Linked DNA regions of Homo sapiens. The protein of the gene in region 4 interacts with the protein of the main gene of each other region in a pairwise test. Each region holds a gene or a part of one and is shown on either strand. Other genes may lie near its edges. The genes, in order: PKNOX2, CCM2L, PKNOX1 and PBX4.

Region 1 (7,733 bases), on a different chromosome or scaffold from region 4:
GGTTGGATGTGATACCGAGTGTATCTTTTGTGCTTGTTGTCAAAATGTGCAAAGCAAGGCTGGCCTTCTAGAAGTCAGCCTGTCCCCTCCCCTGACTCCACCAATCTGGGGAGATAGAGTACATGGGTGGTTCCTTAGGGGTCTAGGGACAAAAACGGCACAGCCTTTCTTTGGCACTACTTCCAGCACCTCTCGGCACTCACTCCTAGAAAGTTTACCTGCATCCCCATGCCTGATTGTTTAATGAGAAGAGGCTACAGAGGACTCCTTGGGGACCCTCCAGGTGTCTTCCAGGACTCAGGAGCTCAGTGGAAGGGGAACAAAGTCTCAAGCCTGTGGCTTATGCAGATGTCTGTGAGTTGGGCGGGAAGGTATTGCCAGGCAGCTTTCTCGGTTTGTAGGTTTGGGGAAAATATCCTGCCCTGGAGGGGAAACCCCATCTTGCCCAAAGCGTGTAGTCAGCATTTCTGCATTTCCCAGGTCTCAGGAAGGAGGTGGCAGGGGAACCTGGGAACAGGGTGGTTTGAGGTGACCTTGACCATGGCCCTGAACCTTAGGGGGACAGAGATGCCAGAGTAGCGTGAGTGCCTGGAGAATGATTAGGGAGCAGCAGGCCCATGGGAAGCTGGCTTCACCCATTAGGTGGGCAGGATTCAGGGAATGACTGCTTTCCCCAAATGCCCTTTCCCAGAAATGCAGATGGCTCAGCAAGCCGCAGCCTCTTAAGAAGCCTGTCCCAGCTCATCCTCCAGGAGAGCTTTCCTTCTCCTTAGCTCTGGTGCTCATTCTGGGGGATACCTTGGGCCAGGAAGCCAGGAATGATTTTGGACATTGTCCCTCTCCGATCTGGTCATTTTCAAGGGAATACTAATGCCCTGGCAGGGCAGACTGTGTGTAAAAAAGGGATGGGATGGCCTAATGGATATGAAGAAGAGTGCATCAGAGGAGGGCCCTCATGGCAAAGGAACCCAGTGGGTCTAACCCAGTGAAGGTCACCAGGGGACCTTCCTCCACGCGTGGCTCCAGAGCTGGGCTTAGGAGCCTGGCTTAAGAGATGGGACCCAGCTCTGGGTGTTACCTGTGAGTGAAGGTTGATGGAGGGCTGGTTGGGGGAGTAGGGCCCCCCTAGATCATTCCTGAGCAGGTTGTCGCTGTGCATCTTGGTTTTGAGGCAGGTGATGTAACGGTTACAAAAGTCCTTGCAGAGTTCATTGACTTTCTCCAGCTCCAGCAGGTGGATTCTCAGGACCTGGATTGCCTTCACCATCTGTGGAGAGGGAGGAGAGGTGAGCCCAGGTGTTTGCATCCCATTTCCCTCACTGCCTGGACCCCCAGCCCCCACCACCCCAGGGGAGGGGAGCCCACCCCCTGCCGTAGCTCATGCTTCCTACACTTGATCTTGGCCAAAAGGCCCAGAAGTGGTAGGCGGTGCCTTCTCATCCCCATGACTTCAGTTCTAATGATGGCTCTCTGCTAATTATTCCTTTGCTCTGAGCCCTCTGTTATCACAGCTGTTCTTGAGGCAGTTGTGGTATTCTGAGAACAGCATTGGCCTTAGCGATGGGAGGCCAGGTCCAAGCCCCCGGCCTGTCATTTACTATCTGTGTGAGCTTGGGCAAGTTGCTCAAGCTCTCTGTGCCTTAGTGGCTAACAAATGGGGATAATTAGATTCTCCCTGACAACTTTACAGGTTTGTTGTGAGTATTGTATGAGGGCGTATACATGGTAGCACATTGTGAGGTGTGAAGGACCAGGCAAGCCTGAGGAAGATGGAGATCAGAATTTCTTATAAGTGCCTCTAGAGCTCAGGGACTGTCTATTCTTAAACAAGCATTCTGAGTGCCTCATGGGATACCGGTTACCTTGTGGACGCTCTGTGGATACTTGCTGATGGACTGAATAATCCAGCATGACTTAGCTGGGCACCAGCTACCTCACTGTCTGCTGTGGCCTTTTCCATGCCCTTTGGATTGCTGTACGGGAGCCTGCTGCCTCTTCAAATGGACATTCCTAACCTTTTCGTGGCAAGAAGCTATTTTGCAATTGAAGCTTTGCTCTTTACTGCTGTTATTATCATAAAAAGAAAATACTATGGAAGGTATGGAAAGCAGGGTGAAAAAAACCTGTCTTCGATCCAATCGCCTTAAAGAATGATTTTTTCCTACACCCATATATTTTAACATAGTTTCAATAACCTTGTGCATGCAATTTTGTTTTCTGTTTTTTCCCTCTAGTTTAGCAAATCTATTTTTCTAAGTGCCAGAATTGTTTTCTCTATCCTCTCTTCTAGACTATGAGCTTTGAGAAGGCAGGGATGATGTCTAATTTGCTCACCATGTTATCTTCAGCACGAACACATATGGATATGGAGTAAACATTTGCTGAATGGGTGAAAGTTATTGAGTAAACATATTTTTAAATGTTGCATATTATTTCATGTGTGTGCCATACTTAACCAGTCTCCTATTGTTAGGTATTTAGATTACTTCCAATTTTTCAATTTTATAAAAAATGTTACAGTGAATATTTTCTAAGCTTATAGCTTTTTTTTTTTTTTTTTAAAAGTTTCTGCATTATTCTTTAGGATGAATTCCCAGAAGTGACAGGAAAAAAAGCTATGAACGTTCTTGTGGATTATGATAAATATTGCCAAATTGCTTTTCAACAGGGGGTTGTTCAAATGGTGCTAGAATAATTAGACATCCACATGCAAAAAAACTGAATCTTGATTTAAACCTCATACCTTAGATGAGATTAACTCAAAATGGATCAAAGACATAAATGTAAGACAGAAAACTATAAACCTCTTAAAAAAAAACAGGAAAAAATCTTCAGGATCTAGGGTGAGGCAAAGAGATCTTAGAGTTGACACCAAAAGCATGATCCAGGCTGGGCACAGTGGCTCACGCCTGTAATCCCAGCACTTTGGGACATCGAGGCAGGAGGATCACTTGAGGTCAGGAGTTTGAGACCAGCCTGGCCAACATGGTGAAACCCCATATCTACTAAAATTACAAAAATTAGCCAGTGGTGGTTGTGCATGCCTGAAGTCCCAGCTACTTGGGAGGCTGAGGCAGGAGAATCGCTTGAACCCAGGAGGTGGACGTTACAGTGAGCCGAGATGGAGCCACTGCACTCCAGCTTGGGCGACAGAGCGCAACTCCATCTAAAAAAAAAAAAAAAAAAAGATGATCCAGTGAGGAACTGGACGCTGTCAAAATTAAAAATGTTTACTCTTCAAAAGACCCTGTGAAGAAGAGGAAAAGACTACATACTGGAGGAGAATATTTGCAAACCAAGTACCTGACAAAGGACTTGTATCTAGGATATATAAAGAACTCTCAAAACAAAACAGTAAAATAACAAGCAACCCAATTAGAACATGGTCATAAGACATGATTAGACATTTCACTGAAGAGGATATACAGATGGCAAATAAGCACAAGAGAAGATATTCAATGTCATTAGTCACTAGGGAAATGCAAATTAAAACCACAATGAGATATCACTACACACCTATTGGTATGGTTAAAATAAAAGAAATAAATATGACAACACCAAATGCTGGTGAGGAACTGGAGACTAGAACACTCAGACATTGCTGTTAAGAGTGTAAAATGGTACAGCCACTCTGGAAAACAGTATGACAATTTCTTACAAAACTAAATATGTGCGTACCATATGACCCAGCAATTGTACTCTTGGGCATTTATCCCAGAGAAATAAAAACATATGTTCTTACAAAAACCTGTATACAAATTGTTCAAAGCAGCTTTACTTCTAATAGTCAAAAATCGGAAACAACCCAAATGTACTTCAATGGGTGAATGGATAAAGAAACTGTAATTCATCCATATCATGGAATATAACTCAGCAATAAAAAAGAATGAGCTATTGATATGCCCAACAATGTGGATAGATTGCAAGGGAATTTTCCTGAGAGACAAAAGCCAGTCTCAAAGGATTATATACTATATGATGCCATTTACAAAACGTTTTTGAAATGACAAAATTATAGAGATGGAAGACAGAAAGACAGATTAGTGGTTGACAGCGGTAGAGTGGAGGAGGGAGGGAGGAACTGTTCTGTACTTTGCTATAACAATGTTTATGTGGATCTAAGTATATGATAAAATTGCACAGAACTAATTACATGTACACACACACACACACACACACACGAGGGCACGTAAAACTGGTGAAATCTGAATACAGTTGGTGGATTGTTCCTGGCTGTGAAATTGTGCTATGGTTATACAAGATGTGAATCAGGAGCTCTCTGTATGAGTTCTTATAACTGCATGTGAATCTACATTTATATCAAAATTAAATGTAACCGCTAGGAGCGGGTGATGCTTATTGCTTTTCCAGATCCATTTATGTTGACGCAAGCAATATATGGGATCTCTTTTTAGTCCCACCCTCCTAGCTTTTGGCTAGCTCCTGGATGCCTAGAGGAGAGTTTGGACAATATAAAAAGGGATGGAAACAAGGAAGGAAATCTCTCCCAGAGAATTGTGACTGTGAGGTGTGTGTAGAGAAGTGTGGCTTGAAGCCAGCATTACACCCTTCTCTGAGCCTCATTGGCATTTCAAGTGGGGAGCCCACATTCCCTGGGCTGGGCTTGTGGCTTGTCTGATGAGCAGGGATTGTGCTCAACTAATTAAGGGTTTTTGGAGTACTAAATTAGACCAAGTGTCACTCAAAGACAGAAAGCAGCGATTGTGTGTCGTCATGCAGGGCTCAGTCACAAGGTCTCCTCCTAAGAAGTACCACCTCTGTGGGGCTGAGACTGAGGGAGACTGAGCCATCCTAAGCAAAGAGGAAAATTGTGACTTTAGAATGGATCATTTGGACCCCAAAGTGGAGTTAAGTACTTAATAAAGATTTGTTCTTGCCTAATGTTCTACTTGACTTTGGCCACGAACATCTTGGTCTATGTCTCTCAGTGTAATGAGCACAGGATAAGGTACTTAACACATATGCGTTGCTGGATTGTTAATAATACCCAAACGTTTCTTATTCAGACTGTGTCTCAGGCACTGTGTTAAGCCCATTCCAGGCCTTATTTATTCCACACAACCATCTCATTAAGTAGGTACCATTATTGCTCATATTTTGCATTTGAAGAAAATAAAATCCAAAAATATTACGTTTCCTTGCTTAGAGTCACACAACTGGTGAGCGATATGAAGCCAGGTTGCCCCACCCCCCACCCGTGTGCCTTGTCTTTCAATATGGACTCTCAGGATTATGTAGGTAGAGGAAGTGGTAGTATAAAGGGTGCGTGGTTTGGGAGAAAGTGGCTCAGTGACAGCAAGTACGGGGTTCTAGGAAGCCAAGTAGCTTTTGAGACATCAAAGTTTAGGATTTCCAGAACCCTTCCTGGTAATGTGCCTTTTCTCAGCTGCTCTGATCTCCCATCTCTCACTCCTGGCACAGCCCCCCGGGGTCCAAACACCTCACCAACACAGGTGCCTGCTTCTCCATGTGCACACGGAGAGGGCTGGACTGTCAGGTCCCTTACGTTTTCTGACTCTCTGAACATTACCAGGACTTCTGCCCTCAATTCACGCCTGATGGTGTTAGAATGAACCCCACACGGTGACCTGGACCAGCCTCTAGGTGGCTGCACAGTCCAAACTCATCAGGACACAGGCTGCATCTTCTCCTCCAGCCTCTCCCGGTCACTGGGCGATGACCTTGTTGCCTCGGACCTTCTCCATATTCTCTCAGTCTGCTGATTAGAAGCTTTTCCTTATATTCAATCAAAATCTCTCCCGCCTTAATGTAAAGTGCCTTCTGTAGGCACCAAGAACATCGAGGAACTTCTAGGACCTCTATCAACACAACTTCTTTTTAATTTAATTTTATTCATTCAACAAGTATTGAGTCTTACTATATGCCACATATTGGACCAGGCATCTGACTTGAACAAGTTGTTCAATTAACTTTCTCTTCTCTCTTTTTTTTTTTTTTTTTGAGACGAGTCTTGCTCTGTCGCCCAGGCTGGAGTGCAGTGGCGCGATCTCGACTCACTGCAAGCTCCACCTCCTGGTTCACGCCATTCTCCTGCCTCAGCCTCCCAAGCAGCTGGGACCACGCCCGCCACCACGCCGGGCTAATTTTTTTTTTTATGTATTTTTAGTAGAGACAGGGTTTCACTGTGTTTCCCAGGATAGTCTCGATCTCCTGACCTCATGATCCGCCCACCTTGGCCTCCCAAAGTGCTGGGATTACAGGCGTGAGCCACCGCGCCCGGCCAAACTTTCTCTTTTCTAGACAAAAACGATCGTCATTCCTTAAACCTTTCTTCTCTTTCCCTTCCCCGTTCCTTCTTTCCTCCCTCCTTTCTTTCCTTTTTTCCTTCTTTCTCACACACATACATATATTCACACATACACAGAGAAAAGTGCACTTACCTATTCATTTATTTTAAATATATAACCAATTTATACTTACTTTATAAAATCAGAAAATACAGGTAAGTAAAACAAAAGTAAAATATACTCAGAAGAGCTTTGCTCAAATAAAATACACGCACAGCATGTTTAAACCAGGTCTGGTGCACAGTGACCAAAAGTGGACTTATCCTTTGGTCTAATAAAGTGCAGCTGAAGGATTACTTTTTTATGGGCTAATGGAATTGGTTGAAAGATTTAAGGAGGTAGAGTAAATCATAATGGTATTCTGAGGCAATGAATATGTAGGACCTGTTCAATATTAGAAAGGTAGGCAACACTATCAATGTTAGAGGGCTGCCTGGCAGGGCAGGAACACTGTGGGTTCATTGTCAGGCAGCCTGGATTTGAGTCCGAGCCCGCTCTCTGTTAATTGGGTGCCGTTGGGCAAATTCCATGATTTCTCTGAGCCTCAGTCTCTTTACGTGTAAAATGGGGATAATGTTCATCTCTAACTCACAAGATTTGAAAGGGGCTAAAGGAGATAATGATGTAAACATGCTTTATAAACCACAGTAAACCAAATGCATGCAAGTTGTAAAAATAATCTCTTCTAATAATGTCTGATATCCCATTGGCTTTTCTACTGCTATTCTACGTCCAGCCAGTGAAAAAATAGTAACTCCAAGGGTCTTTTTTGCTCCCATATTTGTGTTTAGTAAATCATCCTCTATCCTGTGTTTACAATTTTGGATTTTTGTCTCCAAGTTAGAAAATTCTGATTTATTAAACTATTTTTCTAAATGATCGGGGTCATGTGAAAATTTATTCCAAATCTTCTAGGGCAATAACAATGCCACTTAATTCAACATCACCGCCAAATGTGGTGAATGCATCCTTAATTCCTCTCCCCAGGTGTTGCTCCATCTTTCAGCTTCTTTCCCTCCCTTCTCTTTCAAAATAATGATTCAGCCCTCTTTTTCTAAGAAGTCTGCATCAAAAAAGCAAAACAAATGCAACCTCACATTTTAGTCTCCTACCACTGTACACAAGTCTCACAGTCCCAGGAAAGTACACAAAAATGGGGTTTCTTATTTTCTATAAAGCCATGTCGTCTGATGTCCCACACTGATTATTTTCTGCCTTGATATTTTGAACAAGTAGTTTGAACTTTATCTGCAAAATTTAGGATGACAATAATACCTACACTTCAGAGTTGTTGTGAAAACTGAATAAGATCATGTATGCAAATGTGTTGGGCATATAGTAGCCATTCAGGAAATGTCAATTCCTCATACCACTGTGGTATTATGGTCCTCCCTCCACCATCAA
Region 2 (7,733 bases), on a different chromosome or scaffold from region 4:
CACCCTGAGCCTCCCTTTAGTACTTATTACCATTAATGATTGTTACTGTTAAATTGCGATTTCATTGCCTCCTATCCTAGACTGTAAACTTGACAAGAGCAGGGACTTTGGTTTTCTTCATTTGTTGAACACCTACTATGTGCCAGGCCCAGGTTTTGCCCTCTGTCTTGTGTCCATCTGTATCCCCAGCACACAGCAGAGTGCCTGGCACATAGGAGGTACTCAAGAAATATTGCTTAATAAAAACTCAACCTTAGGCTCCTGCCTCCTTGTCTCTAAATTGTTCCAGAACCATCCTCCATTATTACCTACAAAGAAGCCGTGTAGCTTTGTGGTTAAAGGACTGGATTCTGGAGCCAGCCTTCTTCTGTTCAAATCCCATACTTACAACTTACTAGGTGCTTGACCTTGGGAAAACTAAACTTAATTTCTCTATTTCTCAATTTTTCCATCTGTATAATGGGATAATAATAATTAGTGTCATCATGAGAATTAGAGGAGTTAATATTTGTAGAACACTTAGAATTATGGGCTATAAGCAATAAACAGTAGCTGCTGTAATGTTACTATGTTGATGAAAAAATAAAGTGCTTTATAGAACAGCACTTAGTACATAGCAAGTTCAATGTTCAAACGCTATTATCACTATTTTATCTCTTCAGTAGATATCTGGTTGTTTAAAGACTAGCCTAAGGGCATACAGTATGAGGAAGGCAAATCTATTGCCACTAAAAAGGAAAGAAACAATAAGACATATATCACTGGCAGAGACTGCTACATGCCAAACTGAAGCCCTTAGTAATATAACTAGGTGATCAACCAGTAACCCAGGACTTTCTTGGTTTTAGCACTGAAAATCCCATATCCGGGGGAACCCCTCATTCCTGAGCAAACTGGGATGGCTGGTCACCCTAAACAGAACCCTGGGTAATGTTCCCAACTGAATTGTTTAAAATTTTATTTATTTATTTGTTTATTTATTTATTTCAATAGAGACAGGGTCTCCCTATGTTGCCCAGACTGGTCTCAAACTTGTGGGCTCAAGTGATCCTCCTGCGTTGCCCTCCCAAAGTGTTGGGATTACAGGCGTGAGCCACCATGACTGGCCTGAATTTTTCTTTTTTTTTTTTTTTGAGATAGAGTCTCGCTCTGTCGCCCAGGCTGGAGTGCAGTGGCGCAATCTCAGCTCACTGTAAGCTCCGCCTCCTGGGTTCACGCCATTCTCCTGCCTCAGCCTCCCAAGTAGCTGGGACCACAGGTGTGCGCCACCATACCTGGCTAATTTTTGTATTTTTGGTGGAGATGGGGTTTCGCCATGTTGCCCAGGATGGTTTGGAACTCCCAGGCTCAAGCGATCCACCTGCCTCAGCCTCCCAAACTGTTGGGATTACAGGTGCGAGCCACCGCATCTAGCCTGAAATATATTTTTTTAATCCTAAATTTTCCAGCTTTGCTTGCAGCTAGTGATGGCTATGTGACCAAGTTCTGGCCTATGAGATATAAGCAGAAGTCATCAGGTGGGAATCTGGCAAAACTCTTTAAAGAGGCCCCTTAGCATGCTACTGTGATGGCTGGAGCTACAACCACCATCTCGGTCCATGAGGTGACCTTGAGGATGGCTGCAAGTCCTGAAGAGGGTAGGGAAGGAAAAGAGAAGCCTGAGCTCCTAACAACCATGAAATGTTGAATTGCTGCTCTATTTTATGTCAAATATAAGAAAAAAAAGTTCTATCTTGCTTAAGATACTCTTTTTGGGGATTTTCTATTACATGGAACCAAAATTAAGCCAAGATAATTTTTTTGGCATGTAGCTATGATTTTGGTTTCTGCAGACCACTGTGCCTGGATGACTGGGAGAGAACCACAGGACTGTGTGGACCCACATCTGAGTTCTGGTGTCTCCTGGGTCTCTCAAGGGTCTGGATCCTGTGGGTTTCCAGAGTCAGGGAGCTCAGTTTACCTCCCCCTCTTAGTGCCCAGTGTCTCAGCACACATCAAGGTTGGGTCACCTTCTCCTACCCTCTCTAGTCACCCTGTTTGTGCAGGGGTAGGGGAGCAGGGTGGAGTCCCTGACAGGGGCTGTACTCACAAGGAGCTGCAGCAGCTGAAGTCGGCATCATAGGCATACGTCCCATCTGTGTGGCAGCTCTCACCTGGGACCAGCAGACAGAGGGACTGTCAGAGGCAGCAAAGCAGGGATCAGCATCCCCTGCTCCCTGAGGCCCCACCCTCAGTCTCAGCCTGAAGTCTAGTCCTGCCTCTGACACCAACACACAACAGACCCTGGGGAACTCCCCTCCCCTCTCCTGATCCTCAACTTCCCCGATGTGGGGACAATACCACCCCCCACCTACCTCATAGGAGCCTTGGGAACAGCAGATGAGGAAACATGTGAGGGAATATTTTGTAAACTGTGTGTTTCAGGCAAGACAAAAAAAAAGAAAAAAAAATTTGTGGCTCACGCCTGTAATCCCAGCACTTTGGGAGGCCAAGGCAGGAGGACTGCTTGAGCCCAGGCTTCAAGACCAGCCTGGACAACATAGAGCGACCTTATTTCTACAATAACAAAAAAATTAGCTGGGTGCGGTGGTGCATGCCTGTGGTCCCGGCTACTTGAGAGGCTGACATAGAAGGACTGCTTGGGCCTGGGAGGTCGAGGCTGCAGAGAGCCGTGATTGTACCACTACAGTCCAGGCTGGGTGACAGAGCCAGACCCTGAAAAAAAATAAATAAAAGAAAAGAAAAAGAAAAGAAAAGAAAAAGAAAGAAAGAAAGAGGAAAGGAAAGGAAAGGAAAAAAGAAAGAAAGAAAAAGAGGAAAGGAAAGGAAAAAAGAAAGGAAAGAAAGAAAGAAAGGGGAAGGGGAAGGAAAAGAAAAGAAAGAAAGAAAGGGGAAGGGGAAGGAAAAGAAAAGAAAAGAAAGAGAGAAAGAAAGAAAGAAAGAAAGAAAGAAGAAGAAAGAGAGGAAGAAACTTGTGAAGGGGAAGGATCTGAAAACCTTCAGAGCAAAGAAACACCAAGTACGGAGAGCTTGCGCTCTTCCTAGTCCTGTTGTCTCATTTAGCTGGTTATTAGCCCTACCATTTCTGATCTCTGATCAGTGTTGCTTCCTTACCCTCCAGGTGGGGCCAGTTCCTCATTATACATTCTCCCAGCACAGTCTGTGGTTATTTATTTATTTTGAGGCAGAGTTTCGCTGTTGTCGCCCAGGCTGGAGTGCAGTGGTGTGATCTCTGCTCACTACAACCTCCACCTCCCAGGTTCGAGTGATTCTCCTGCCTCAGCCTCCCGAGTAGTTGGGATTACAGGTGCCTGCTACCATGCCCAGCTAATTTTTGTATTTTTAGTAGAGATGGGTTTTCACCATGTTGGCCAGGCTAGTCTCGAACTCCTGACCTCAGGTGATCCACCTGCCTTGGCCTCCCAAAGTGCTGGGATTACAGGTGTGAGCCACTGTGCCCAACCTGTGGTTGTGTATTTATTTGTGTACTTATTTAATCACTGTCAGCCTGCCTCCACTAAGTAAACTTCATGAAGACAGGCCACCTCTGGTTTTGCTCACCAGAATAACCTACTGATTAGCACTGGATCTGACCCACTAGGTGCTCAATAAATATTTGCTAAATGAATGAATTTGTTGAAATATTTGTTGAATTATCTCATTTATTTGCCTATCATCCTTGTGAGAGTTGAACTAACCCAGCCTCCCAACAAGCACAGCTCCCACAGATGCGAGGGTCTTCTGAAGAAAAGAACGAGCACTCTGCTGCTGGTACCATGCTGTGGGAGACAATGGCTGGGGAATTCACCCACTGGCCTGAAGGCAGCATGGGGAATAAGGTTGTTGCTGATAGAAGCTTCAGAATCAGACAGACCTGGATTTGAATCCTGACTCTGCCACTTACCAGCTGTGTGACCTTGAGTAATTTATTGACTAATCTGAGCCTTAATGTCCTCATCTGTAAAACTGGAATCGTGGCCAGGCGCGGTGGCTCATACCTGTAATCCCAGCACTTTGGGAGGCTGAGGCAGGCAGATCACGAGGTCAAGAGATCAAGACCACACTGGCCAACTAACATGGTGAAACCCCGTCTCTACTAAAAATACAAAAATTAGCTGGGCGTAGTGGCGCATGCCTGTAGTCCCAGCTACTCAGGAGGCTGAAGCAGGAGAATCACTTGAACCGGGAGGCAGAGGTTGCAATGAGCCGAGATCGTGCCACTGCACTCCAGCTCAGGCGACAGAGTGAGACTCCGTCTCAAACAAACAAACAACAACAACAACAAAAACCAACCAAACGAAAAAATGGGAATCCTAAGGCCTCAGAGAGTTCTTTCATCCATTCAGAAAAATACTTCATGAGTATCTGATGTACCCAGTCTCGTGCTAGGCACAGGGGATACAGTGACAAAGAGGACAGGCAAGGTTGCTATGAGGACATGGCACATTGGTACGGTGCTTGGCACACAACTGGTGCTCAACAAATGTCTCTATTAGTCTCATTCTCCTTCTAGTCCTTGAGTGCATCCAAGCACCCATCTGGAAATCTTGGTTTTGTGTTAGGGTCCTAGTGGGACCAATGGCTCAGTAAGCAGACAATACATGTGCTTAGGTTGCTGCAATATAGGGACACAAAAACAAAAGGGAGAGAGAAGAGTTCAGCTCTAGGGGGCTTGTTCTGAATTTGACAATCCAAACATCTTTGAAGAAGCTAAGTTTGAGATCATCATGAAAACTGATGGCTGGGTGCAGTGGCTCACGCCTGTAATCCCGGCACTTTGGGAGGCTGAGGCGGGTGGATCATGAGGTCAGGAGTTCAAGACCAGCCTGGTCAAGACGGTGAAACCCCGTCTCTAATAAAAATACAAAAAAAAAATTAGCTGGGTGTGGTGGCACATGCCTGTAATCCCAGCTACTCGGGAGACTGAGGCAGAGAATTGCTTGAACCCAGGAGGTGGAGGTTGCAGTGAGCCGAGATGGCATCACTGTACTCCAGCCTGGGGAACAGAGGGAGACTCTGTCTCAAAAAAGAAAAAAGAAAAGAAAAAGAAAAAGAAAATTGACATTTCACCTACAATTGTGGGGTACACTGTAATTATGGCAGAGATCAGGAGCCCTAAATACCTTCATCAGCCCAAGTCCTGGGACATCTTCCCTCCCCTGGCCTTTTTGGGATGTTTCACAGGAGGGGAGGCCAGGAGTTCTGGTACTCACTGCGGCTGCAGAGCCATGGCCGTTCAGGTGTGGATGTGTAGTGGTAGCCAGCCCGGTCCACACACTCAATACTCTGGTCCCCGTAGATGATCTGGAAGACCTGACAGATGAGTGCGCAGGACTCCTCTGCAGCGTCCTGGCCCAGGGAGGAGGAGAGAGAGCTCAGGTCCTCACCAATGACCAAGATGTTACCCTGCTTCCTAAAACAGTGTGTGAAGATGCGCACAAAGATACACACCTATAGAGCCCTTTAAATTGGCTTTCAAGAATTTTTCCATCAAAATTCGATGGCTACTCTCTGGATCTTAGAACCCCTTTATAGAATTCAGTGACAACTCTAACTCTTGTGCCATGAAAAATGTACCCCAGATTTGTGGAGGATTCATCAGCCTTCCTGATGCCCTTCTAAGATAAGTCCTAATTTAGTTTAATGTATAGATATGGAAACGGAGGCCCAGTGAGGGGAAGTGATTAGTCAGGATTAGAATCCAGTTCTCCTAACACCTAGTAGGAGAAGGGATGATTAAATGTATCAAAATTTTAGGCTCAATATAGTTACTAATACTGGAAGCCATATTTAGATATGAGCTTCCTAGCATTCAGTGTGAAAATGGAAACAGGATAAATAAAATTCAATCTCTGATAGAAGGAAGGAGTTTAAGTTCTTGGGTAAAACTTTTTTGAGACTACAAATGTGAATAGGTATTTAGTTCTTGAATTTACCTCTTTATGCCTTAAGCAAGACACACAGAAAACCAGTAATTGATGAAGACACTGTCTTCATGAACCTTTTCTCTATGTTGTGTCTGTAAAAAGGCCCAAGACAATGGATGGTTGGATACAAAAAATAAAAATAAAAAAGCCCAAAGAATAAATTAAAACGTAACCCAGGATAGGCATTTGGGGATAGTAGGTGTGTCCTAATAATTAAACCAGGTGATCCTTACCATAGACCTACAAAATGGACAGACAAAGATGCTGAGACTTAGAGTGGTTAAGTGCCTTGCCTAGGCTCACACAGCAGGTTCATGGCATTAGTACCAGCACCCAGGTTGTTTTTTACTCTAACTCCTATATCCTTCTTAGGACCAGGATGACTCAGATAAGAAGCCAGATGCTCAGACAACCCTGGAAAGCAACTTTTTTTTTTTGAGATAGAGTCACACTCCGGTCGCCCAGTGGCACAATCATGGCTCACTGCAGCCTCAACCTCCTGAGCTCAGGTGATCCTCCCACCTCAGCCTCCTGAGTAGCTGCATGACAGGCACACACCACCACGCCCAGATAATTTTTTGTATTTTTAGTAGAGACGGTGTTTTGCCATGTTGCCCAGGCTGGTCTGGAACTCCTGGGCTCTAGTGATCTCCCTGCCTCAGCCTCCCAAAGTGTTGGGATTACACTTATTTACTCACTCCACAAATTCCAACTTAGTCCTATTATGTGGCCGACACTGGGCCAGGTTCAGTACCGCAAAGCCCTCACAGTCCAGTGGGATGACTGTTAGCTTTGTCTGGAATCCTATTTCCAGCCACAGAGGAAGTGGGCATGGTGGCTGGAGTACAAATGGCCTTGTAAGCAATTGTAAGGATGTTAGCTTTTACTTGGAGTGAAATGGGAAGCCACTGGAAGATGTGGAGTAGTGACATGATGTGGCTTTCATGTTAACGGGACCACTCTGACTGTGTGGGGAAAGAGACTGTCAGCAAGGGCTGAACCAGTCAGAGGATGACCACATGATTCAGGTGAGAGAAAATGGGGCATGGACCTGGGTGGGTACAGGGGGAGGGTGGGGAGAAGTAAATGGATTTTGATGTTTTTTTGTTTTGTTTTGAGACGGAGTCTTGCTCTATTGCTCAGGCTGGAGTGCAGTGGTGCGGTCTACCTCCTGGGTTCAAGGGATTCTCGTGCTTCAGCCTCCCAAGTAGCTGAGATTACAGGCACCCGCCGCTATGCCTGGCTAATTTTTGTATTTTTCGTAGAGACGGGTTTCACCATGTTGGCCAGGCTGGTCTTAACTCCTCAACTCAGGTGATCCACCCGCCTCAGCCTCCCAAAGTGCTGGGATTACAGGCTTGGTTATGTTTTAAAAATAAGAGCCAACAGGATTTATTGACAGAGTGGATATGGGGTGTGTGTGAGAAAGAGAGAGCGTGAGAGCCAGCCAAGGCCCACAGCAAGGTTTTGGCCTGACCAATGTAAGGACACAGCTGCTATTAATTGTGACAGGGAAACCAAGGGAGTGGCAGGTTTTGGGGGAGGAGGTTGGAGCTCAGTTTTGGATGTGTTGGGTTTGAAACAGTCGTTAGATCTTCAGATGCAGATCACCTAGAAATGGGTAGATGAAGGATAGATGGAGGAGAGAAGAAGATCAAGGACAAAGTCTGGGGCACTCCAACTTCTGAAGAAGAGGAGGAACCAGCTTGGTAGGAGAAAAGCCTGGAAAAGGTGGAGAGCTGGAAGCCAAGTGAGGAAGTGTTTCAAGGGGAGAGAGACAGCTGTGGTGTCTGAGTTTACTGGTTA
Region 3 (7,733 bases), on a different chromosome or scaffold from region 4:
GGTGTTCCCTGACTTGCTACTATGTTACATTAACGAATTGTCTTATCTAGGTTTAGTATCAACTTTTAATTTTTAGTAATAATAACAGTTTAATAATATAACTTAAAAATTCCAAATTTCTGAAATCTTTAATATTTGTAGCTACTTTTACTTTTTGTGACTTTCTTTTCTTTTGTATTTACAAACATTACATCTTGGAGTGAGATACACACACCCATCATTAGTTCATGCCTCTGCTGGTAGCAGCTTTGAATAAGAATGATTTAAAAACACATTACAGGCCAGGCGCGGTGGCTCACACCTGTAATCCCAGCACTTTGGGAGGCCGAGGTGGGCAGATCACGAGGTCAGGAGTTCAATACCAGCCTGACCAACATGGTGAAATCCTGTCTCTACTAAAAATAGAAAAATTAGCTGCGTGTGGTGGTGCACACCTGTAATCCCAGCTACTGAGGAGGCTAAGGCAGTAGAATGGCTTGAACTCGGGAGGTGGAGGTTGCAGTGAGCCCAGATCGCACCATTGCACTCCAGCCTGGGCGACAGGGTGAGACTCAGTCTCAAAAAAAAAGAAAACAACCAACACATTACAGTAGCAGTGGGGCCTTCCCTCCCAGGTCTCGCTGGGGTTGTGGGTGGCCATGGAGCTTGTGCTGCAGGGATCACCAGGTTCCTCTAAATGAAGCATGGCGGGATCCGATCTGCTTCATTATTATTAGACTGTGTGCTAATATAATTGTAGATATTTTTAAATCTTGGACTTTTAAAATTAAGCAACCTTAGAGCTGATCCAGTTCTAGTGTTGTTGTTTTGCAGAGGGGGGCATTAAAAAAAGAAAGAAGTTGTCACAGTGACAAACCAGAGTAGAATCTGAGTCTAAAAGTAATGCTTTTGTTTCCCTGATATCGTGAACATGGCTACTCAGCTATCCAGATAGAGAAGTCTGGCTTTTAATAGATGAGCAATGTGTGACTCTAGCAAGAGGTCAACTACTTTATCATTCATGTTACTGAAAAAAGAAGACAGAAACGAGGCCTTAAGCATGGTTGGTATTGCTGCTTTTGCGTTAGGTTGGGGTAATGCATGAATCTGGACGGGTTCTGGTTTGATAGGCGCTTTCACGGGACAGATGTTGTTTTTCTTTCCGTTTCTTTCCATTTCAGCTCTTTTTGTAGCAAAGTGGCCCAGTCAGTGGCATAGGGTGGTGGGTGCAGCAGAACGCATGTCTGGTTTGCTATCTTTGTCCTCTAGTCACTGCAGGAGGAAAAGCTGGCCTAGGGATTTGAGTCTCCTTGCACTTTCTCACATTTAAAGGCAACAGCTCATAGCATAAGAATGGGAACTGAAGACAGCAGCCTTTAATCTTAATGTATTTTGAGATTGCTATCATACTCATTTGATATGAAACAATGTCCAGCCTGCCTTGCCAACCTGTGACTGTTGGGCCAGGTGCAGTGGCTCACATCTGTAATCCCAGCACTTTCGGAGACCAAGGCAGGCAGATCACAAGGTGAAGAGATCGAGACCATCTTGGCCAACATGGTGTAACCCCGTTTACTAAAAATACAAAAATGAGCTGGGCGAGGTGGTGGGCGCCTATAGTCCCACCTACTCAGGAGGCTGAGGCAGCAGAATCGCTTAAACCCAGGAGGCGGAGGTTGCGGTGAGCTGAGATCGTGCCACTGCACTCCAGCCTGTGCGACAGGGCGAGACTCCATCTCAAAAATACAGAAACAATGTCCAGCCTGCCCTGCCAGCCTGTGATTGTTGCTGCTCTCGTTCTCTGTGGAGTCTTATCACAGGCGTGAGTGCCTGGTCTGACAGAGTCGCCAGCGTCTGTCGGGGATTTCATCACTGCTGGTGCCTACGTGCTGTGCTGGCCACATGTCTAGGACCACTGGAGGACTTACGCCTCCAGTCATCTAAGAAACAGCTCATCATTGGGAATGGTTTTTGAAAAGATGCAGCTCTTGCCTTAGATCGTGCTTTGTGGTGAAACAAGAGGAGGTGGCAGTCCCATTCTCTGATGGCTCAGACACGTTGCCACCCAGAGGCTCGGCCCCGTTGGTGATCTGGTGACGTCCAGACGAGTGCAGACTGCCCGATCGTCTCAGGCATGATGGCACTACAGAAAGTCTTGCTTCTTTAACATTTTTCTTCCTTAGGGAAAACAGTGTCAGATTCACAAATTCAACAGTATCATCTATGTCGTTATGAGTATCTAGTTCACAAACATGCCCTAAAGGAGTTGAGACAAAAAAAAAAATGCCATGGACGAGTTGGTGCTTATTTGCATGATTTTTAAAACAACAGGCTCTGTGTTTCTGGGCATTTAGAGAATTCAGAAGAGCTGTTGAGTCCTCTTAAGTAGTTACTATAGTGGAGAACTTGAGTCATTCTTTGTAGCGTGCTTCGTAGAGCAGCGTGTTTGTTAGAAGGATTTGTTAATCCTGTATAGGGTCTTTACGAAGGCTGTTTTCATGGAAGCTTCTCTTTGTTGACTCCAGGTTCATCAATGCCAGAAGACGAATTCTTCAGCCAATGTTGGATTCAAGTTGTTCAGAGACCCCCAAAACAAAGAAAAAAACTGCTCAGAACCGGCCAGTTCAGAGGTTTTGGCCTGATTCTATTGCATCAGGAGTCGCACAGCCACCGCCGAGCGAGCTCACCATGTCGGAAGGTACAGGTGGCCGGCCAAGGCCAGACATGGTGGACCATGGGGTGGGGATTATGAACAAGAGGCCTGGATCAGGCCTGTTAGCTGTGAGCCTCAGGTAATGTGGTGAACGAGAGTGCGTGGTTCTCTTTCTCTGCAACTAAAACATGAGGAAGCTGCATTCTGCGTGCACGGGAGCTCTCAGTAAGAGTTAGGAGCACCAGTAGTAGAGAATGTAAAACACGTGATAGAGATATGAAATCATTAATTCTGTCTCAAAGACACAGTCATGCCCATGGATCTTCTCCTTTGCTTCTGTGTTTGCTCTCCTTTTCCCTCCGACGCCGGGTGTGGAGGAGGGACTTACCCCGTTCTCACCACGTGGCTTCTTTCTCTTCATCCCCCATGCCCTTCTCTTGTTTTTGCTTGTTCCCTGTGGCCTCTGCTCTCCATCCCCTGACGTAGGCAGCCATTCTGATGTGTTTTATAGGCATCTTTCTGTTCGCATGAGGTCTTCATATTTTGGATGGTTTTGTGTGCATGTGTTTTTATTTTTTTTTATTTGTTTGCTTTGTTTTTTTTTTTTTTTTTTTTTGAGACAGAGTCTCACTCTGTTGCCCAGGCTGGAGTGCAATGGCGCAATCTCGGCTCACTGAAACCTCTGCCTACCAGGTTCCCGCCATTCTCCTGCCTCAGCCTCCCGAGTAGCTCGGAGTAGCTACAGGTGCCTGCCACCACGCCCGGCTAATTTTTTGTATTTTTAGTAGAGACGGGGTTTCACCGTGTTCACCAGGATGGTCTTGATCTCCTGACCTCGTTATCCGCCTGCCTCAGCCTCCCAAAGTGCTGGGATTACAGGCATGAGCTACCGCGCCCGGCCCAGAAACAGTTTCTTAAATCCCTGTTGAACATTCCCTAAACATATATAGGTGTTTTATTTTAACTTTAGGTCAAACGAGCAAACAGCACCCAATTGAGTAATAAAGTGTTTTTCTGTGAGTACTAATTTAAATAATGACACACCTTCATCCTGCCGCAGGAGCTGTTGTCACCATCACCACGCCCGTGAACATGAACGTGGACAGCCTTCAGTCTCTGTCCTCGGACGGGGCCACCCTGGCGGTGCAGCAGGTCATGATGGCAGGGCAGAGCGAGGACGAGTCTGTGGACAGCACAGAGGAGGATGCGGGTGCCCTGGCCCCTGCCCACATCAGCGGGCTGGTCTTGGAGAACAGTGACTCCCTGCAGTAGGGGCAGGAGCAGACGCACCTGACTTTTTGGAGTTTGCACAGCAAACATTTTACACAGTTTTATTTCTAATATGTTTTATATGTAGATATAGAAGAGTGCACTTTTGTATTTCATAGTAAGCTTAAAGCGCGTCTTTGCCGGTGCAGCGACTTCTTTCAAGTGTGTGTGTGTGTGTGTGTGTGTGTGTGTGTGCGTGTGTGCGTGTGTGTGGATTTTTAAAGAAATTCTTTAAAGGTTTAACGCTAGATTGTGAGGAATGACACACCACTCCCTCCCCACCTTGAATCCCTAATTAGATTAAGGAATAGCGCTGCCATTTTCTAAACCGTGATGCGGTTGTCACTTAGTTCTGTGGTTCCAGCAGATCTCAGTGGGCTGGTTGATTTGTGTGGCCCATGGATTTGAAAGAAGCTGCTGCACCCGAAACTGCCAGTGTGCGGTGACAACGGCACACGCCTAGACTGAGTGTGGTTTCGTCGTGAGTGGATGGACGGCAAGCTTAGCAAGCCTAAGTCCCCTCATGTTCAGTGAGCCTGTTTCATTTGCTATATAGAAAAAGAAACTCCTATTTTTACCTTGCTGGAATTATTGGATAAAAAAGCTATTTTTATAAATTCGTTATGAATTGGATGATGACTATATTGAGGATAAAATTTCTAGAGAAGAAACAATACATGCTTGCTATTAATATTTCAATTTGGAATGTTCTGAATTGACCAAATTTAATGAACCTGCCCAAAGTTAGCTACCGTTCCATGGTTCTTTGCTCTCCCCGGGTAGTGATGAACATTTACTACTATAAAAGAAACAGCTATTTAATGAAATTTTGATATCTGCAAATTTTTGTTGATATGTAATGCTCAGATTGCATTTTACACTTGATCTAAACATATATCGAAAGATATCTGCTAAACAGGACTTCAGGTAAGTGAGGTGAAATGGTAGCCAGTGACCCGTTAGGAGCTCTCACCGTACATACTCCAGTCTAATTTAAATCTGACCACAGTTGCATGGTCGCTTTACCATGTTAGCTGTGTATTGTTTTAAAAGTTTTAACTTCAAAATATGTTATGCACAGAATGTTTATTATAAACTAATATAAAATGTGCTCTACCCCATTGGCTCAGAGCTAGGGCAAACAGCAGATATTCAGACTTTATTACTTAACTAGCGGACATCCCTGGAGTCCCAGCAGCGAGCTGGTCTGGCGAGGGCACCTCGGCAGCCCCCACGGGTTGGCTCCTACGTTTGCGTTTGTGGCTGGTCTCCTGGTGTCAGTGTTCTCTTGTACGTTGTTGCTTTCGACTTTTCAGAGCCCTCCTGCTCACTTGACCACGTGAGATTTGGAATAACTGTAGGACTTCTGTTTCCTGGTAACAAGATGAACCGAGAGAGTGGGCTGGGTTCTGTTTTCTTTGGTTTTGATTTGTTTTCATTGTTTACTTAGGAGTGGTGCTTTTTCTCAGAAAACAGGCCACGGTGTTTCATACAGAATGTCTTCATATCATCTGAAATGGTATGGCTGAAGTTCATTTGTTTACAGGGTCGGGAATGTCTTCAGTTCTTGAGAGTCAACAGTAATGATTGGTTGTAAGCCAAGGGACATTTTAAGCTAGTGAAGAGTTTTTTCTGGAATTGATTTTTCCCAAAAGAATATATTAATTGAGGTTAAGAAGTCAGTGGGAAACACACAGAAATTTGTTTTAAAATCTTTCAGGAGCTTTACTGAAAGACTTGGTTATCAAGTCTTTTGGGGAGAGAATGACATTTTTTTTTTGAGACAGAGTTTTGCTCTTGTTGCCCAGGCTGGAGGGCAATGGTGCAATCTCAGCTCACTGCAACCTCCACCTCTTATGTTCAAGCAATTCTCCTTCCTTAGCCTCCTGAGTAGCTGGGATTACAGGCATGCGCCACCACACCCGGCTAATTTTGTATTTTTAGTAGAGATGGGTTTCTCCATGTTGGTCGGGCTGGTCTCGAACTCCCGACCTCAGGTGATCTGCCTGCCTCAGCCTCCCAAAGTGCTGGGATTACAGGTGTGAGCCACCGCGCCCGGCCGAGAATGACATCTTAAAGCCACCATTGCGTTCCTCATTTGTGAACTGTCTTCTCATATTTTAAGTCAAGTCTATAAGATCATTTTTAACCTAAGTTCCAACTTTGTTGGACTCCTTAAAATAAGCACCCATGAAAGCCAGCCAGCCCTTCCTCCTTCCCTCACCACCCTCCGTCTCTTCGGCTGCTTGCTCTTTAGTGTAGATTAGTGGAAGCCATTCACAGAATGTAGACTCATGTATAGGTCACCGTTTCTTTCCCCCACTAGAAATCACATTCACTAAGCAGTGGATTGAATTTAAGAGTGCTGCCCCTGCCCGGCGCAGTAGGGCGTGCCTCTAGTTCCAGCTACTCGGGAGTCTGAGGCAGAGGATGGCATGTGCCAGGAGTTTGAGGCTGCAGTGCACTATGCTTGCACCTGTGAATAGCCACTGCACTCCATCTTGGGCAACACAGTGAGACCCCCATCTATAAAAAGAGAGCACTGCCTGAACCTCGGTGGCACTGGGAAGCTCTGGCCTGAGAGTTAAACACCCATGCTGAATGATACAGTGTGCATTCTCTCCAGCTGCAAACTTTCTTCAACTTTCCTAAATTCTTACTAAATTCAGAGGAATAGGATAAAGATCACTTAGAGAAAGGGTGCTTATGGACATAGCCTGAGTTTCCTTTAACCTCTCTGCAATGGGTGCTTTTAACTAGCTTCTACATGGCAAGCTGTTTCAGTTTGCAAAATCACTGCCCAGCATGTTTGAGGTCAGTTGGCACCTTAAAACACCTGTTCTCCAGCCCTTGGACAGTGGAGAGAATCTGTAAAAGTGTGACCCCCTCTAAGATTTCGTTTTAAATGATCAGATTCGGTTCCAGTTTTATTCTTGTTGAGTTTTTCCCTATGAAGGCTCCTTTTGAATGTGTCTTGAGACCCAAATTGAGCATGTTGCTGTTATTCCTGCCCTGCACCTGTGGAGCAGGAGTGGCAGGGCTGGCTGTGCTGGGTTCCAGCTCGCTCCCACCGAGGGACTAGCTTGGCCTTTGCGCTTTGATTCCAGATAGTAAGATGAGTGGAAGTGTTTATCGAGCATGCAAAAGAAACCCTCACGGCTAAGGGCTCTGGGAGTTGTGTCTGTGTGACCTGAGAGTGATCCATCTCCTGCCTGTGTGAGGTAGCAGTGGGCACTTTTCATTGAGACAAACTCCAGGGTGTCCAGAGGGGGTTCTGCCCCTTGTGAAGGCCCATTCCTGGCACTTAGAGACAGAAAGAACTCAGCAATCTTTCGTTCTAGTTATATTCGGTCTTTGAAACTGACAATCTTTGAAATGTGAATACTGTAACAATATGTTTTCTTGGATTGTTGTCTTTAAAAAGGATTTTTGTGAAGCAATTGATTTATCAAAGCAAAAAAATTAAAAATAGAAACTTGCTTTATGGATGTTTTATTTTATAAAGCTCATGTCACCAAAAGCTGCTTCTCCATTTTATGTAAAACATTGAGAATGTTTTCATGTTTTCTGGTGACATGTAGGGTCTGTAGTCACCCCTGCATATTGAGAAACTAGGACCACACTGCATCGGACTAGTCAGGTCCATTTACATGTCCAAGAATCTTTTCTTAAATTCCTTACTTTGTTCATTCATTGGCTGTTCAGGCAGAAAATGGAAACAGGTAGCTTTTATGTTTTTTATTATAGTTTTCCACAAATCTAATTATTTTGATAGTTACAAGAAGATAATGATTCATCAGTAAGCTAACATAATCCCTTTCATAGTTCATAT
Region 4 (7,733 bases):
AAAAAAAAATAAAAAATAAAAAATTAAAAATGTCGCCGGGCATGGTGGCACATGGCTGTAATCCCAGCACTTTGGGAGGCCGAGGCGGGCGGATCACCTGAGGTCAAGAGTTCAAGACCAGCCTGACCAACAGGGTGAAACCCTGTCTCTACTAAATACAAAAAATTAGCCGGGTGTGGTGGCAGATGCCTGTAATCCCAACTACTCGGGAGGCTGAGGCAGGAAAATTGCTTGAACCTGGGAGGCAGTGAGCCGAGATTGCGCCATTGCACTCCAGCCTAGGCAACAAGAGTGAAACTCTGTCTAAAAAAAAAAAAAAAAGAGTCCTGAGCATGGCCCTCAAAGCCTAGGCAGATGGGGGTAGGGAGGTGGGGCGACACCAGCGGTTGAAATGGACAGACATCTCAGCTGCACTGGCAACAGTTGGTATCAACTCTTGTTTTCCCTCCTGAAACTGCTGAATTTGAGACTAACAGACTCATGCAGTAACATCCACACAGGGGCAGATGGAATTATGAAGAGGCGTGCCCAGGCTGAACACCCACACTCTCAAAAATTGGTTTCTCGTTCAGCCCCAGCAGCTCACTGGTAGGAAGGTCAAGAATGACAGCTTCCTGAGACTACAGTTGATTAAAGTACTTTTTTTTTTTAGACAGGGTCTCACTCTGTCACCCAGGCTGGAGTGCAGTGGCGCAATGTCATCTCACTGCAACCTCTGCCTCCTGGGTTCAAGTGATACTCCTGCCTCAGCCTCCTGAGTAACTGGGATTACAGGCGCATGCCACCACGCCCAGCTAATTTTTGTATTTTTAGTAGAGACGGGGTTTCATCATGTTGGTCAGGCTGGTCTCGAACTCCTGATCTCAGGTGGTCCAACTGCCTCGGCCTCCCAAAGTGCTGGGATTACAGGCGTGAGCCACCGCACCCAGCCTTTAAAAAGTACTTTTTAAAATAGTTTTTTATTATTACTAAATTCCAGATGTTGCATTGCTAAACATCCGCTGTGGGCAGTGGGGAGCCCCCAAAGGCTGCTTCCTGGGGTCAGGGTCAGGGGTGAGCAAGGGACAACTTGGGCTGCCTGTGCCTATTGGTACACATGCCTCAGCAAGTGGTCCTGACACTGGCTTATTTTTATTAGGTGAAAAGTGAAAGGGACCAACATTACACAATTCCACAATACTAAGAAACACGTGACCACAGCCAGTGTCTCCAGGGGGTGGATACACATTGGCTGTGTCCTTCTGAGCGGCTTCCCTCAGCCTGCAGTACTTGGGGCTCATTCGGGTACAGGGCCCCCGCTTGTCCAGCTTACCACACGAATGCTGAAGCACCATCAGGGAGTGCTGCCAGGGAGTTGAGGGCAAATTTGCTTAAAACCAGTTCACCGCTAACAAGAAACTTGTGTGTCTGGTTCCCCAGGAAAGCCTAACCTTTGTGTTTCCATTTCCATGGCATCTGCTCCCCACAATTTAAATAAGGAACAGATAAGACAGGTCATCAGATATTTACATACCCATGAGAGGCATATGAGGTGGGCAGGAAGCCAGGGGCATCACAGCCCAGCATCTGGCCCCGTCGGGAGGATGACCTGGCACTGGGTGTTGGAGACCAACAGGGGGCATATCATGTGGGGGCTGTCAGCAGCAGCAGTCTGCTGGGGGGTGGGGACAAGGAGGGGTCTGCTTGGCTGGGGGATTAAGTATACTTGGGGGTGAAGGAGGTGGGAGATTGATTACACAAGCAAAAGTACTGAGGACAACAGGAGCAGGCTCTCACTGTTGGAGGAAGGAGTCACAAACCTGGGAAGAGAGAAAAATAGTGGGAACCCTGTGGTGAACTAGAATTAAAGATATTGGAGTGGGCCAGGTACAGTGGCTCATGCATGTAATCCCAGCACTTTGGGAGGCCAAGGTGGGAGTATTGCTTGAGCCCAGGAGGTTGAGGCTGCAATGAGCTGTGACTTCACCACTGCATTCCAGCCTGGTGACAGAGTGAGACCCTGTCTCAAAAATAAAAATAAGCTGGGTGCGGTGGATCACATCTCTAATCCCAGCACTTTGGGAGGCTGAGGCGGGCAGGTCACTTGAGGTCAGGAGTTTGAGACGAGTCTGGCCAACATGATGAAACCCTGTCTCTACTAAAAATACAAAATTAGCCAGGCGTGGTGGTGCACACCATAATCCCAGCTACTCAGAGGCTGAGGCAGGAGAAATGCTTGAACCTGGGAGGCTGAGATTGCACCACTGCACTCCAGGCTGGGCAACAGAGTGAGAATAAATAAATAAATAAATAAATAAACAAACAAAAATAAAGATATCATAATGAACTCATGGTTTTTAATATATAAAAACATAGGAAAACAGATGTGAATGTGTGCGCACGTGTGTGTGTGTACACACGCATCTGTAATAACCCACAAATATTCCTTAGCTCTGTGTCCTAAGAGTGTCCAAGAGCAGCAACACCCCAACAGCAATGAGCACATCAAAGGCCAAGATTTACTCTGAAAGGAATCAGGGCTCCTTAGAGAATTGGGTGAAGCAGGCAGAGGCAGAACAGAATATGAGCCTGGTTGGGCACAGTGGCTCACACACATAATCCCAGCATTTTGGGAGGCCAGGAGTTTGAGACCAGCCTGGGCAACATGACAAAACCCTCTCTCTACAAAAAATACAAAAATTAGCTGGGCAACGTGGCTCGTGCCTGTAGTCCCAGCTACTTGGGAGGATGGGGTGTGAGGATCACCCACCCAGGAGGCTGAAGTGAGCCAAGATTATGTCACTGCCCTCCAGCCTGGGTGACAGAGTGAGACCCTGTCTCCAAAAAAAAAAAAAAAAGGCCAGGTGTGATGGCTCACGCCTGTAATCCCAGCACTTTGGGAGGCAGACAGGCAGGCGGATCACCTGAGGTCAGGAGTTCAAGACCAGCCTGGCCAACATGGTGAAACCCCATCTTTAATAAAAAATACAAAAAATTAGCTGGGTGTGGTGGCAGGCGCCTGTAATCCCGGCTACTCAGAGGCTGAGGCAGGAGAATTGCTTGAACCTGGAAGGCGGAGATTGCAGTGAGCCAAGATCGTGCCATTGCACTCCAGCCTGGGCAATAAGAGTGAAACTCCATCTCCAAAAAATAAAAATAAAAATAAATTTACACTGGGGAGGGTTAGGGACATCATGTCCTCATAGCATTTAGGCGAAACTTAAATGTAGATTTAAACTTGAATTTCTCCTTTAGTCACCAGATCTCTTCTGAAGGCTGGGCACCATGCCCACAGCCTTACATATATGAATTCACACAGCCCTCAACAGTCCTCAGTAACCATGAGCTAAGTATTATTATTGCCCCACAAATCAGAGGAGGACCAGGAACAGAGAAAGGTTCAGCCAAGGACCAGGGTCATGCAGCCAGAGGTGGAGGCAGAATTCAGACCCTCTTGCTGTTCTCAACTACTATATATGTCAAGTACACATCAATCTTGCACCAAAACAGTGTTCAGAAAGAAGCACACTTTTGTACAACATATACACACACTTTCCACAAGCCTCAGCAAATATGAAGTGCTATGCTCCAAAGTGACACACAAAATTCAAATAATTGACCTCAAGAGACCAACTCACTCTAAGAAATCAAGTGACACGTTGTGCAGATGACCCTTGGTTTAAATATCTTCATCTTATTTGGTGGCCCCACTTATAAGCTACTTTCAAATTGTTATTAACCTTGACCAAGTGATCAAGGTCAATGGTAGCAGTGACAGGACATATTGACAGCATGTTTTCCCTGACACAATGTGCTGAGGACACACACATTGCCTCTGTGGGACTCTGGCCACAGATGCACAACTTCAGTCCAATCTAGAGGAAACATCAGACAAACCGCACTGAGGGATGTTCTACAAAATGACTGAGCGCTTCTTAAAATGGTCAGCGTCATTCATGGATGACAAGGTCACAGATCACAGGAGACCAAAGAGACATGATGACTAAATACAACGTGGGATTCAGGGCAGAAAAGGGCATTAGGGCAAAAACTGGGGAACTCCAAATGAGGTCTGTAGTTCAGTTAAAGATCATTGTACTCAGCGTAATTTCCTGGTTTCCATATTTGTACTATGGCTCTGAAGGTGTTGACGAGACAGGAAGCCCGGAGAAGGAGATACGAGAACTCTCTGTACTATTTTTTCAACTTTTCTTTTTCTTTTCTTTCCTTTTTTTTTTTTTTTTTGAGACGGAGTCTTACTCTTCTTGCCCAGGCTGGAGTGCAATGGCGCGATCTCGGCTCACTGCAACCTCCACCTCCTGGGTTCAAGTGATTCTCCTGCCTCAGCCTCCCAAGTAGCTGGGATTACAGGCATGTGCCACCATGCCTGGCTAATTTTGTATTTTTAGTAGAGATGGGGGTTTCACCATCTTGGCCAGGCTGGTCTTGAACACCTGACCTCGTGATCCACCTGCCTCGGCCTCCCAAAGTACTGGGACTACAGGTATGAGCCACTGTGCCCAGCCGACAAAACTGTTCTTATTCAATTTCCCTAAGTCTGTCATTTTTCCTTTTTCTATATGACTGAATGCTAAGCACCTCTTAGGTCTTCGACCTAGAATGCAGCTGCTTGTTACTGATTTGCAACAGTATTTCTCAGTTATAAACTACAAAATAAATCAGTGTGCATACTGGAAACCAGGGCAATGATAAGGCAGAAAGAAAACATCCTAGCCGTCTTCTGCGAGACAGAAGGGATGAGCAAAACGGCCCACCATGCACATAAGGGCTGAGACAAGATCAGAGGTGTGCTGCCGCAGCTCTAGTCACACACAGGAAGTGCCTTTTTTTTTTTTTTTTTTTTTGAGACAGAATTTCACTCTTGTTGCCCAGGCTGGAGTGCAATGGCGTGATCTTGGCTCACCGCACACTCTTGTTGCCCAGGCTGGAGTGCAATGGCGCGATCTTGGCTCACCGCAACCTCCACCTCCCAGGTTCAAGCGATTCTCCTACCTTAGCCCCCCGAGTAGCTGGGATTACCGGCATGCGTCACCACGCCTGGCTAATTTTTGTATTTTTAATAGAGACAGGGTTTCTCCATGTTGGTCAGGCTGGTCTGGAATCCAGCCTCAGGTGATCTGCCCGCCTCCGCCTCCCAATGTGCTGGGATTACAGGCATGAGCCACCACGCTCGGCCAGAAAGTGTCTTCTAAACAGCCTACCTGTCTTTTCCTTGATCTCACAGAGCACGCTGAACAGAGCAGGCTTCATCCGATGGCAATTCAGAGCATGCTTTCTGAAAGGGAGGTGACAGAGGAGGGTGTGAGAAAAGAATAGTCATCATCTTGTCCCCAAGAGTAAAGATCTTCCATACTGAGAAATCAAACCAAACGAGATCTGCCACTCTGACTGTAGATAAGTCGCCTTATGAAAATGCAGTACAATCATATTTCATGTGAATTTGATTTGCACAAAATCAATATAAAGGCCAGCCGTGGTGGCTCACGCCTGTAATCCCAGCACTTTGGGAGGTCGAGGCAGGTGGATCACTTGAGGTCAGGAGTTTGAGACCAGCCTGGCCAGCATGGTGAAACCCTATCTCTATTAAAAATACAAAACTTGGCCAGGCACAGTGGCTCATGCCTATAATCCCAGAACTTTGGGAGGCCAAGGCAGGCGGATTGCCTGAGGTCAGGAGTTCGAGACCAGCCTGGCCAGCATGGTGAAACCCTGTCTCTACTAAAAATACAAAAATTAGTTGGGCATGGTGGTGCCCACCTGTAATCCCAGTTACTCAGGAGGCTGAGGCAGGAGAATTGCTTAGACCCGGGAGGCAGAGGTTGCAGTGAGCCGAGATCAGGCCACTGCACTCCAGCCTAAGTGACAGAGTGAGACTCCATCTCAAAAAAAAAAAAAAAAAAAATTCGCCAGGAACAGTGTCATGCACCTGTAATCCCAGCTACTCAGGTGGGTGAGGCAGGAGAAATGCTTAAACCTTGGAGGCAGAGGTTGCAGTGAGCCAAGATTGTGCCACTGTACTCCAGCCCAGGCAATAGAGTGAGACTCTGTCTCAATAATAATAATAATAATAATGTAAAGCAATATACAAATATTCAAAACATTTCCCACTATATGCAAAAGTTTAAACAATGCAAATAACTCATCAAAAACTATGGTAAGGCATTAGTGGCTCATGTCTGTAATCTCAACGCTTTGGGAGGCCAAGGCAGGAGGACCACTTGAGCCCAGAAATTTAAGATCGGCCTGGGCAACATGGTGAGACCCATTCTCTTCAAAAATTTAAAAATTAGCTGGGCATGGTGGTATGCCTGTAGTCCCAATCCCTCAGGAGGCTGAGACAGGAGGATGGCTTGAGACCATGAGTTAGAGGCTGTAGTGAGCTATGAACATGCCACTGTACTCCAGCCAGCATAACAGAGGCCTTGTCATTAAGAAAAAAAAAAAAAGGCCAGAGGCAGTGGCTCATGCCTGTAATCCCAGCACTTTGGGCGGCCGAGGCGGATGGATCGCCTGAGGTCAGGAATTTGAGACCAGCCTGGCCAACATGGTGAAACCCCGTCTCTACTAAAAGTACAAAAAAGCTGGGCGTGGTGGTGCACACCTGTAATCCCAGCTACTCGGGAGGCTGACACAGGAGAATTGCTTGAACCAGGGAGGCAGAGGTTGCAGTGAGCTGAGATCGCACCAGTGAACTCCAGCCTGGGCAACAGAGAGAGACTCCATCTCAAAAAAAAAAAAAAAAAAGAAAGAAAAAAAAAGAACTATGAAATATCAAGGTCCAACAACTTGAAATCTGTGTTCACACTATGGTCCTGCAGTGGTGTATCCTGGTGCCTAAGCAGAAGCACCAATCATCCTCTTCCAGTGTCACTTGGCAGGTGTTTACTGAGTACCTACTATGTGCCACACACCATTCTGGCATCAGAGACACAGACAGGTAAGGTTTTTACACATGTGGCAGTTAAGAGGGAGGGAGTGAGACACCAAAAATACACACCAACAAGAAACCCATCAGCCGTGGCAGTTGCTCTGGGGCAACTGGGGTCACATGACAGTGATGGTTAGAAGGCTTTTTGGAATTTCCATGTCTCTGAGGTGACATCAAAGCTGAGATCAGAATGAGAAGGAGAAATCAACCAAGAAAAGGACTGGAGAGAGGTATGGTTTAGGCAGAAGAAACAGCCAAGCACAAAGGCCCTGTGAGAACACACTGGGTTCAGTACTGGCTGTTTGAGACCAGGCTGCTGAGTGTTAGGGGTGAGGGAGAGAGCTACGAGAAGTTAGACTGGCAAGTGGAGATTGACTCTAAGGGCCTTGAAAGTCATGGGGACAACTCTGGCTTTTGCTTGCTTGGGTTGGGAACTATGGTTGGCAGGATAATGGCTCCCAAAAGGGTCCACATGCTTATCCTCAGAACCCTAAATATGGTACTTTACAAAAAATGGGAAAAATAATTCTGCCAATGTAATTAAGTTTAAGGACCTTGAGATGGAGAGATTAACCCGGATTATCTGGGGGGGCCTACTGTCATCACATGACCCTTAAAGGTAGAGAACCTTTCCCAGATGTGGGCAGAGAAAGTCATGATGATGTAAGGGTTGGAGAGATACTATGTTGCTGGCCTTGATCATGGAGGAAGGGACCATGAGCAAGGAATGCAGGTGGCCTCAACAGGCTGGAAAAGGCAAGGAACCAGCCCATGGGCTCACTGGGCAACACCTTGATTTTAGCCC

What was found.
Region 1: the proteins of PBX4 (region 4) and PKNOX2 interact in binary tests that used the Homo sapiens proteins (3 or more experiments, as listed by UniProt).
Region 2: the proteins of PBX4 (region 4) and CCM2L interact in binary tests that used the Homo sapiens proteins (3 or more experiments, as listed by UniProt).
Region 3: the proteins of PBX4 (region 4) and PKNOX1 interact in binary tests that used the Homo sapiens proteins (3 or more experiments, as listed by UniProt).

Annotation. Positions count from the first base shown.
Region 1 is NC_000011.10:125,391,408-125,399,140, reverse strand, and holds part of PKNOX2 (homeobox protein PKNOX2), read right to left. Parts: intron 3,167-7,733; exon of another isoform or gene 3,045-3,166; intron 1,268-3,044; coding exon 1,079-1,267; intron 1-1,078.
Region 2 is NC_000020.11:32,020,276-32,028,008, reverse strand, and holds part of CCM2L (cerebral cavernous malformations 2 protein-like), read right to left. Parts: intron 5,350-7,733; coding exon 5,214-5,349; intron 2,154-5,213; coding exon 2,090-2,153; intron 1-2,089.
Region 3 is NC_000021.9:43,026,198-43,033,930, forward strand, and holds part of PKNOX1 (homeobox protein PKNOX1), read left to right. Parts: intron 1-2,504; coding exon 2,505-2,677; intron 2,678-3,692; coding exon 3,693-3,904; 3' UTR 3,905-7,733. UniProt on the Homo sapiens protein: Activates transcription in the presence of PBX1A and HOXA1.
Region 4 is NC_000019.10:19,594,091-19,601,823, forward strand, and holds part of PBX4 (pre-B-cell leukemia transcription factor 4), read right to left. Parts: intron 5,279-7,733; exon of another isoform or gene 5,276-5,278; coding exon 5,202-5,275; intron 1-5,201.